Regions from separate parts of the Homo sapiens genome. Here region 2 is linked to region 1. Evidence: fine-mapped expression QTL. A gene starts in region 1. The other region holds a variant in brackets. All regions are shown on one strand. Distances are between the middles of the regions. Region 1 holds the start of NPHP4 (nephrocystin 4). Region 2 overlaps NPHP4 (nephrocystin 4).

Region 1 (5,366 bases):
CCCTGGAGGAAGTGCAGAGGGGCCTTTGGGGCCAAATCAACAATAAAAGAGAAAATCGAGAAGGCTCCAGGTCTTGAACCCAAGAAAAGGGTACAGTGGGCTCTCCAGGGGAAAAAAAAAAAGAAGAAGAAGAAAATACACCCACTTTTAATGAGCCCCTGATGCAAGACAGGAACTCACATTCTATGGTTACTATTCCAACAACTCTGCCAAATGAGAATCATCATTATCGCCATCTTACAGATGAGAACACTGAGACTCAGAAAGGATAAACAGCCAATCCAAGGTCACACAGCTAGCTATTATAACTAGCTATTATAATAGTATTATAGATATAATACTGTAAGCTATTATAACTACCTCCCACTACCTCAATCAAGGAGGCCAGGAGAGGCCAAGGGAGAAGAGAGGCCCAGAGGGAAAAAGTAAGAGCACCAAAGGAACCCAGGGCTAATGCTGTCTCCTCTTTAACTTCAGGACAGATTCGCAGCCTCCCCACCTGTTTCCAACCTCCAAAATGAGAGCTGTGAAATCTCCTTGAGATCTCTGCTTCTGCTGATCTATTCAGCAACTATTTCCCGAGCACTTGTGTTCCAGTGCATAAGAAGGCTGTCAAATGTGCTGTCTTCAAGCATCTAGAAAGCCAGTGGGGGAGAAAGACAAGAAAGTGACTGTGAGCAGCAACAGGCCCCCGGGAGGGTGCAGAGGTGAGCAGGGCTGAAGGAAGATGCAGGGGGTGGGAGGCGCTGTCAGGGTCCGGGAAGCCTCCTTCCCGGAATGGAAAATGTGTAATGCCTGAGACCCAGATGCCTTGGGGAGCTTTTGGGGAAGCAGAGGTCTGATTAAGCACTGCCTGGAATTCCCTCATTCATGAGCATTCTTTCAGCACCTACCCTGCGCCCGGGAGAAACGGTCTTGAACACAGCAGACAAGCTCGCTACCCCCATAGAATGTAAAGAAACGGGGCACAAATTAGCATACAAAAAGACACAAGTGTGACCTACGGAAACTGCACAGAGGAGGTGCAACGAACGGAGCCCTGGGTTAGGACCGGGAGGCGCTGCCCACCATCAACAGAAATACTCCTCCTTTTGCCAACTACACACGCGAGAGGCTGGATTTCCTTCACAGACGTCCACCAAAGCCACACATCGCGACACACGGAGGCAGAAAGCAGCGGTCTCCTAAGAAGTTAGACACGAGGAATCTCGGGCAGCGAGGTGCCTGCAAGCCCGGGGGCGGGCGGGAGCAGCCTGCACGCGTGGGGAAGGGCACGCGGGAGCGGGTGGCGCCTTCCGGGCCGGGTCGGCCGGGAGGTTCCAAGGCAGGAAAGGGGCGCAGAAGGCCGGGACGGCGCCGGGTACAAAGCCTCGCAGGGACGCCCGAAGGCCGCAGAGCCACCGCGGGGAACTGACAGCCGGAGCCGGAGCTGGAGCCGGGGGGCGGGGAGGAGGGGCGGAGGGGCGCGGCCAGGCGGGGTCCGCGGACTCCGGCCTGGGAAGGATGCGCGCGGACTAGGGCGCGGGGAGCCAAGGCCCAGAACATCGGTACCGCGCTCCCTTCAGCCGAGGGGCTGCAGAGAGGCCAGGGGGCAGGGGGCAGGGGGCAGGGGGCAGGGGGCAAAGGGCAAGGGCAGAAAGGAACCCACGTAGCCAAACGGCACCCAGCGGCCCCGACCCCAAGTGTCCCGACGAGGGGGGACGCCTGCGACTAACGCGGGGACAGCCCCCGCCGCGCGCCACCGCCGCACCCCAGGCACCGGGCCCCCACGCAGGGACGGCGTGGACCACCCTACCCCCGAACCCCGAGGCTCTGGCCAACACTGAGGCCCCCTGTGCCTCGAGGCCGCGTCCAACCTCCCCCGCGGCGCCGGCCCACATGGTTCCGCCCGCCGCGGGCCGCGTTACCTAGGAGACCGACCCGCCGCGGCCGCGCCGGAGGCCACGGAGCCCACGCTTTTCAGAGAGTCTCCACTCGACGGACCCAGAGGCCCGGCGGCCGGTGCTCAACGGAGCCACAAGCCTGAGGACCGAGGACTGGCCGAGGGGCGCGCCCCGTCCGCTGCCACCCGCGGGAGGAGCCTCGGAAGGCGGCGCACCGCGCCGCACACTCAGTCCAAGAACCCGCCTCGCGTCACTGTCGCCGTCAGGGCCGCGGAGCCAATCAGAGCCCAAGTCGAGGGCTGCGCTTTGCGAGCGCCAGCCAATCGGTGCGGCGGCGGGCCCATCCTGATTTGCATGTCCGACGACCCCTCAACCAATGGTAATGTGACTGGCGTGAACAATAGCCAATCAGAAGCTGGAAGAGGCGTGGCCCCGGGCGTCCCACGAGGTGAAGATGCTGCTGGCGGAACCTGCAGGAGCTAGCGGGATTCGGGGGCGCTAAAGTCGCAGGGGCAGGGCGGGAAGGAAGATCCGGCGCGGGGCACAGGATCCGGAGCTGGAGCCCCCAGGTGAGTACCGGGGAGACCCCGGCGGGGCGCGCTTTCCACCAAGCTGCTCCGGGACGGCGGCGGCGGGTATCCGCGAGGCCCGCGCTGCGGCAGGCGCCGCGGTCCCGTCTCCATCTCTTCTTCCCCGGCCCTGCGTCCCTGCCTCCGCCGCTGTCTCACCTCCTCTCCAGCCTCCTCACCTCCTTCTCCATCGTCTCCCTTCCCCCATCCCTTTCTGTCTTTCCTTCCCTGTCCTCCCGCCCGCCCGACCCTTCAGCTCGCATCCCTGACCCCTGCCCCTGCCGCCGTCCCTCTTCCCGGTGCACCTCTTCCCCATCTCTGCCCGCTCCGGTCCTAGCAGCCTCGCCCTCCCCTTTCCTCCATCCTCCTCTCATCCCCTCTCCCGGCCTCTGCGCAGCCCCACCGGGGCGCTGCTGTTCCCGGTCCTCCCCATCTCTCCTCCTGATCGCTTCTCAAGGCTCATCCGTCGTTCTCGCTGCCTGTCCCTGTGTCGCTCCGGTCCCTTTCCCCACCCTCCCATTCTGCCCCCAGCCCCTCCGACCTCTCCCCGCGGGCACGCTCTCACCACCTTACCCTGCTCCCCAAGACTGTGACCCTGCTTCCTGCACCAGTTCCTCGGGCTGTTTACAGCACACACACCGCCACTTCTGACCCTGAGCCCCTACTCCTATCTTAAGCTTCTCCCTCCTGCCAGGCCTTGGCACAAAGCACTTCCGCACCTCCCTACCTGCTGCTGCTCCCAGGATGCAAAGACCCCACTGCTGCACCGCGTCCTGCGGCATTAGCAGCAGCCGGGGTACCTGCCCACCTTCCCACCCCGCCAACCAGCCGCATCCTGGTGTCCCTCCTCCTGGCATTTGTCCTGGGGGCTCTTACAGGGACTGTGCTTTGCCCGCAGCATCCCGGGGTGCTCCAGGTGGAAAGCCCCTTAGCACCTTTCCTCCCTGGCCACCGTCTCCTTCCCTCCCCACCCCCACTTTCCTGCTCAGCCTCACTTTGTGATTCAGCATTTTTGGGGTTGGTAACTTTCTTGCTTCCTGTCGTGATAGGGACCTGGCTACGGAGCTGAAGGCAGGGGTCTTGACCCTGCGGTTAGCAGGGCCACCTTAGGAACCAGACCTGAGCTGCCTGGTTGGGAGGGGGCTGAGGAGCTGGGGACCGCCACTGGGGGTTGTCTTTTCCTCCCTTTCATTTGTCTGCCCTGTGTTGAACTGTGTCCAAGGGGAGATGACATAAGTAATAGCTCTTGGGGAAGTGGGCTATTAGCATTTATGGAAATTAATACATCCACATCCGAGGAGCAAGAACACCAAGTTCAGGCCACAGCTGTCCCACTGTCTGTCGTTTCAGGATTTTTTCTTTCTCTGCAACTTCTCCTCCCCGACAAAAACCCCAGCCTCACCCCTCCCCTTTCCCCCAGTGCCAAGAGTAAGCTCCTGCTCTGCTAAGGAAGCCGCATTCAGGCCCCGCGTTGCAGGTTGCAGGGTTTGGGGACCTACGTGTGGAGAGTCACATCTGCCCACCTGATTCTCGCCTGGCGGCCGTGTCTGCTGCAGAGCCCTGTGCAGCTCCTGGCCCTGTGCTCTCGCAGTGTGGGGCCCTAAGAGTGCACTTGGTCCTCCAGGTCCTGTCATTGTCTCCACGGCCACACTCGGCCTCAGTGGCACTGACAGTGTTCGGGCCGCAGCACATCCCTCGAGAGCAGCATGGTAGGGGCTTCCCTGTTGACACCCAGGGCCATTTTTTTTTTCCCTGCGCCAGTCAGCAAATGCTTTGTAGGTGCTAGTCAACACCTGGGGGCTGAGCCAGGCACTGGAGTTGGGGGGTGTCGTGAAAAAGTGTGAAACCCTTTTCGTGTGTTTCTTGGTTGAGAACCGTCTTGGGTCTGGATTTGGAGCCTGGATGGGAAGCAGTGTGCACAGAAGCCATTGCACCCGGGAGGTGGGACGTGGGCCATGGCGCTAGAGAGCTGGAAAGGCCGAGGGTGCCATGGGCTGGCCAGCTAGAGAAGGCTTCCTCGCTTTCATTTTTCAGTCATCTTCTAAGACCCAAATGGTTCAGGAGGAAGCGAGTGCCACACAGTTTTGATTTGGCAGTTTCCGGCCTGGGCTTGGAGGGAGGGGCCTCCCCTAGACCTTCCTGTGTGTTGGTGCTCTGCCGTGGTAACTGGGAACACATCATCTGTGTGGAAGGAGAGCCTGCTCCCTCGCGAGAACCAGGGGACCGTGCTTCTGTTTCCAGGGACTCTGGCCAGGTGCGGTATGTGTCTGGTCCTCGGCTAAGTTCTCAGTGATATTCACGCCGCCAGAGGTCCCAGAGTGAATGTTTTCCTGGCGTCCCTGAATAAGGAGGCAGGACAGTGGGCAGCTCGGGGCGGCAATTCGAGAAGGATTGATGCCAGAGGTGTCTAGGGCCATAGACCCCATGTTCCCGCCAGTCCCCCTCCCACCACCAGGAGGACTTGGGTCTTGGCACCCAGCAGCCGGTCATCCTTGCTCTCAGAGGACTAAACGGAAGGACAGGCTTCTCCAGGGTCAACAGAGGCAGTGACGGAGCTGGGTTGGACCCCCTACTTCCTACTTATTTGAGCCCAGTTCATGCCTTGGCTGTCCGAGCTGGGGGAAGCCAGCACCCCGAGGACATGACCGGCTGTCCCTTCAGAAGGCCACTTGGAGGCATTGCTGACATTCATGGGCGCAGCCAGTGCCCTTGGGTGTGTCCAGGTCACTGGAGGGGCTTTTGGGACTGGGAGGTGCCACTACCATGGAGATTTCTCAGCGACTCAGTCCTGCCTGGCATGCAGGCCCTGGTGCAAGGGTACTGTTGTTCGTGGCCTTCAAAGAGATGGCCCCATAGTTAGAGAAGAGTGAGGGCACCAGGTCCGTGGTGGGATGAAGGAAAGGAGGGACCCTCC
Region 2 (5,366 bases), 110 kb before region 1:
TCCCAGCCGAACCCGTCCTACTCCACAACCAAGATCACTGCCCAAGCTCCCAGCCGAGCCCATCCTACGCCGCAACCAAGATCACTGCCCAAGCTCCCAGCCGAGCCCCCGTCCTACTCCACAACCAAGATCAGTGCCCAAGCTCCCAGCCGAGCCCCTGTCCTACTCCACAACCAAGATCACTGCCCAAGCTCCCAGCCGAACCCCCATCCTACTCGACAACCAAGATCACTGTCCAAGCTCCCAGCTGAACCCCCGTCCTACTCGACAACCAAGATCACTGCCCAAGCTCCCAGCCAAACCCGTCCTACTCCGCAACCAAGATAAGTGCCCAAGCTCCCAGAAAAACCCCCGTCCTACTCTACAACCAAGATCACTGCCCAAGCTCCCAGCCGAGCCCATCCTACGCCGCAACCAAGATCACTGCCCAAGCTCCCAGCCGAACCCATCCTACTCCACAACCAAGATCACTGGGATCAAAGAAAGCAATCTGGTGCTTGCTGTCCCTGGACGACAAAAGCTGACCGAAAGACAGTGCAAAAGAGGCTGCCAAGGAAATCAGCTGTGTGAAGCAGCCACCAAGCATGAGGGCAGTCCTCTCCCCATCATCAGAGTCCCAGGGCCCTGGGCCCAGCTGGCAGACACCCATGTCCCCAGCCATGGCACAGGTTTCCTTGCGTGGCCTCAGACAGGAACATGCACTGTGAATGCAGCTGGCCCAGAGCAGAATCCAGGCCGAGGCCGAGGCTCAGGTTCTGTCCCGTGCGGTAACCCTGCAGGCTTCCATGGCCAGCACCCACGCTGCTAGCAGAGAGACGCCTACTGTACCACAGAATAGCCAGTTTTATGAAGAAAGAAAAGCCATAACACCTTTTTTTCCAAAAAACGCAGAACTGACGGAGGAGAGCCAGGCTCGCTGCACTGATGCGCAGAGTGCTGCGGGTGGATTCGACCTTTGTGAAAACCTCTCCCTCTCCCGTCAGCGCCGGAGTCTCCCAGGCTGGCTATCTCAGCCTCCCCTTCCTATGAGCTTATCTCTCTCTTGCAGGCAAAGTATGAAAATGACAATTGGAGATAACATATAATGGAGGCAATCTTTCTTCTGAAGATAAGATTTTAAAACCTGGAGTCACTGCACATTTGGTGGCTGGAGAATTAAATATAAAAACAACCAACTCGGTCTCAGAGCAGAACGCTTCTTGCAACTCCCTTAGTTGCATGAGCCTTTGAATAATGCCTGCTCCTCACATGTGGCTCATTTATTTCTCCAGAACCTAATTGAGTTTTGCTGTGTCCATATTGTCTATTTACCAGGCCGCCTCGGATGTACATTCGTAAACAGGCAGGCAGAGCCTCCAAGTCGACTTAACGAGCTGTGCACTTGAGCCCCTCCGCCAGGCCCCCCACCAACCTCTGCGCTGCCAGCGTCGGGTGGATGTGGCCCATGGGGCTCTGGGGTTTACAATCAGGCTGGGTTCTAAGGAGTGGAAAATTCCCTAATAAAATAGCAGACAAGTCTGAATCTCATGCAGACAGACACAGCTTCAGAAACATCACACGGCTTAGTTTTATTGTGTTTTCAATTCTGCCCTGAAAAATCCCAAACGTTCCAGAGGACCCTCGGGAGGTTCAGTGAGCTTGTCACTGGCCCTACAGGGTCCCATGTCGGTCCTCTGCCCTGAGGTGCGCACAGGCAGGCACCCAGCCTTGTGTCCCTTGACACCCCATCAGCAGCCCCTATCCCAGCATAGGCCTCAGTCGAAGCCCCTGGAACGTCCCAGGTGGGACCCTCCTGAGCCACCCAACCCACCTGTCCCACCCACCACAGTCCTGGACGTGGAGTGAAGTCCAGGGCTTTGCTCAGGCCCTCTAACGAGCAATCCCGGGGCACCATTTTCTACAAAGTCATGGTGCTGGGCCGAGAAGAAATGCGCCTCTTCACTCTCCTCCTCCCGGGCTGCAGGGAAGTTAGGAACACTTCCCTTGTCTGTCCTCCATCATGAGGCACAGGGAAGTCTCTCCTGGAACCCAGTCACTGTATTTGAGGACTGTCCCGGAGATCCTCCAGGGATAGCAACAAACAACAACATGCAGGAGAGCCCGAGATGACTGATGACCTCTAACCCCAATCAGAAATTCAGAATGCAAACAACTGGGTCCAGGACAGACTCAGCGGCCAAGGACACAGGCTCCATGGCCAAGCTGGTGAGAATTCTCCCGGTTTCCTCCTGGGCCCGTGAAGCCCATGATGTGGCCCCTGCCCGAGGGAGCCCACACTCTACCAGAGGGGTTGGGCGGCCGCTGGAGAAATGGCACAAGGCTGGGGACTCTTACCCACGTTGGCCAAAGTCAGGTGCAGCCGGCCCTTCACCACCGAGTGGACGCCGATGGGCTTGACGCGGCCAAACCCCAGCATGTCTCCACTCACCACCATGTTGTCCTGCTCGTATTCAGTTGCCACGACCTCAAGCTCGTGGGAGGCCTGCACAGCCGGCCGGCCTTGGCGGAGGAGATGCTGCAGAAGAGAAAAGCGCGTTCAGAGGCTGGAGCCGGCCCTGGGCTGCTTCCACCAGCCCTGCAGGTGGAGGCTGCTCCCCAGCCCAGCAGGAAAGCCACTGTGGGCGGGAGGGGGTGTGCGCAGGATAAGACCCTGCACCACGCTGGGGGGTGAGGGGGCGGCGAGCCAGGCGCCAACGTCTTAAAGCAGGACTCCTTATTACTGGGGTCTTTTTCACAAAGT[C/G]TTAAGTAAAGTATGACTGGATTTACCCACTGAATAAATACCACTGGGCCCTGGGAAGGCATAAGTGGGTCTGGCAGCTGCCCTGGAGGATCCTCCCCTCCACAGGAAGCAAGAGCAGGAAAGAGGGCAGCCAAGCAACGCAAAGGACTCTTAGCCAAGCGTGTCTGGGACAGCGAGGAATCCAGGACGGAAACCCCAATGGGACTCCAGGAGGAAGACAGGCCATGCACAGAGAGGGCAGGGGAGGCAGAGAAGGCCGGGGAGGCAGGCCAGGCCAAGGGCACAGGGCACAGGGTACAGGGTACAATGCCTCCCCCGTTTCCCTGGGCCAGGAAGCATGGCTGGGGTAGAGGCCCGTGGGGCCCAGGGAGGGGCCATGGGGCACGAGAGGCCCGCCGGGAGCCCTGGGCTGGGGTTTGGCCCAGTTCTGCATGCCAGGCCGAGGCTGCTCGGGGCAGGGTGGGAGCAGGAAGCCTCAGACCCAGCAGGGCCTCAGCAGGACTTTCCTGACCACGGGCTCTTCTGCTGATCAGATTCCACGGCTCAGCACTCTGCCCGAACGCCAACACTGTGAGGCATGTGGGGGATGACAACGGCCTCACGGCTGTGCCCCAGGCGTGGCTGGGACACTCTTCCCCCGTGCCCTCTCTGCTCTGGTGCTTCCTCTCACATAAGAAGCAGTGTGGGAGCAGATGAGGTTCCGGATTTTGTAATTCTCCAGTTTCTACAGCAACAAAAGTGCCTGTCTCTGGGAGTGAGACGCCAGACCTGACCCTTCCCTTGTGGGTCTGGGGGCTTCCGGTCGCCGCAGACCCTGGTCGCTTTGCCACACTCGTCTACACTGCATACGATCACTGCATAGACATCGATGATTCCGGAACCTCAGTCACTGGGAGACTGAGAAGATATGAGAAGTCTCCTTTAGGGAACAGCCAACAAATACAAGAAACCATGTCAGCTTCTCCAAGAGGCAAGGAAATGCGAATGAAAACAAGGCACCATTTTCCTCCCAAATCATTATCAAAATGGCCACTGGCGACTGGTTTAAAGGCTGACACACTGTGAAGCCAAGGACATGGGACACAGTGCCCTCTGTCTTCAGGAAGTGCAGGCCTGGCTGAGCCTTCGGGCCAAACCCCCATCTGGCTCTGCATGCCTGCGGCCCTCACGGTGGCACCATCAGAATTCTACTTCCGGGAACATGTCATTAGGGAGAAGAGGATGGTAAATAGCACAAGCCCCGGAGACAGAATTAGGCTAAGACTCTGCCCTGATGATCATCAGTGTGACCCTGGGCCTCTGTTTTCTCCACCAGAAACAAGGATAAAAACAGAACTGCCCCAGGGCTGGGCTAGGGGTCACACTGAAGGCAGCACAGGAGCCGTCCGTCCCTAGAGGAAACTCTTCTCATCGTCGTAGCAACGTGTTACGGCCAGCACCCCCAGGAAATCAACTAGAAGATGGGGGTAAAATTGAACTTCAAGAAGTCCACAGCAGTGATTAGCAGAAGGAAAAGCCACTGTAGTGACCCGCAACAGCAAGAGCTCAAACAAGATGAAAGCTGGCCCCGCCTGCAGAAAGTAAGTCCACCAAAGGCTAACCGGAGCAACCTAACTCTCCCAGGATCTGGAGTCCAGAGGATTCTCTCTGATCATCTCAGTTTTTCACGTTTTCTACCTAAGTTTTAAAGTTACAAGATTTTATTTTAGAAAAGTGAAGCTTTAAATTTAATTTATTCAAGTCTATGTCAACAAGCGTAACGGCACTTGTTTAAGGGGCTCTTCGTGTAGGGGGAGATCAAATGGCTTCCGTCTCCAGGTGGCACAGCAAAGAGGGGGCACAAGGCTCGGCTGGGCACGACAGGGGAGCCACTGCCACCCCACACATGCCCAGCGGGACCCGGCTCTGCCTCCCACACCGCCTGCCTCCTTTACGCCTCCCCACCATGCAGAGCCTGCTGGGGCTGAGGCCTGTGCTAGAGATGCTGTGGTGTCGACACACAGTCCTGCCCTGGGGACATCAAAGCCAGCATGGGAGACGGACAAGCAAGGGCCACGATGACCCTGTGGGGCCCTTGCCATGACCCCAACAGGAACAGAGGCCCAGGGTGAGGCATGAGAAGAGCAGCCAAGCCCTGCGGAGTCCCTGCCACCTGCAGACCCCACCCTGAACGTTCTGTGCACAGCCCACCACCCTGGGGGGCATCCCCCTCCTCTAGAAGTCACAGGGAGCAGGGATGGAGCCTGGATCAGTCGGTCACACGGGGAGCCAAGAGCAGACCATGCCTCAGAGGAAGAGCAGCTGGAAAAACTCCCATACCCCATCCCCCCACCCCGAGAGCACAGCGCAGCTGAAGGAGCAGAGGAGCCGTGCTTCTCAGGGGTCAGCAGCTGCTGGAGAGGACAGGAAGCCCCGGGGGTTCAGCCGTGTCAGGAATCCAGGAGGAAAGCAGCTATGCGGCACTCAAGAAAAGTGGGGAAATCTCAGAGACTCAGGGGCTGCAATAATGACGCCACATCCTCTCCCAGCTCCGTCCCGTGGCCTGAGAGAAGTCTCAGGACACCATGGTAGCGTGTGAAACTGGCCCCAGTCCTTGGCCCAAGAGTTGTCATGGGGTCCCCTTCAT

What was found. PIP is the estimated chance that this variant, and not a neighbour inherited with it, causes the effect.
Region 2: its variant is fine-mapped to the expression of NPHP4 in tibial nerve (GTEx, PIP 0.97).

Annotation. Positions count from the first base shown.
Region 1 is chr1:5,990,337-5,995,702 of GRCh38, forward strand. NPHP4 (nephrocystin 4) reads right to left here and starts at 2,089. Exons shown (of 30, transcript NM_015102.5): 1 at 1,908-2,089. It also overlaps a transcript of KCNAB2 not described here. RefSeq lists enhancers at 658-1,512, 3,389-3,438 and silencers at 1,589-1,768, 1,919-2,088, 2,129-2,308, 2,389-2,638.
Region 2 is chr1:5,884,952-5,890,317 of GRCh38, forward strand. It overlaps NPHP4 (nephrocystin 4), which reads right to left. Exons shown (of 30, transcript NM_015102.5): 18 at 2,335-2,515. Among named protein-coding and RNA genes, the nearest start is that of MIR4689, 25 kb to the left of the region's middle. The variant C/G (reference allele first, on the strand shown) is at 2,741.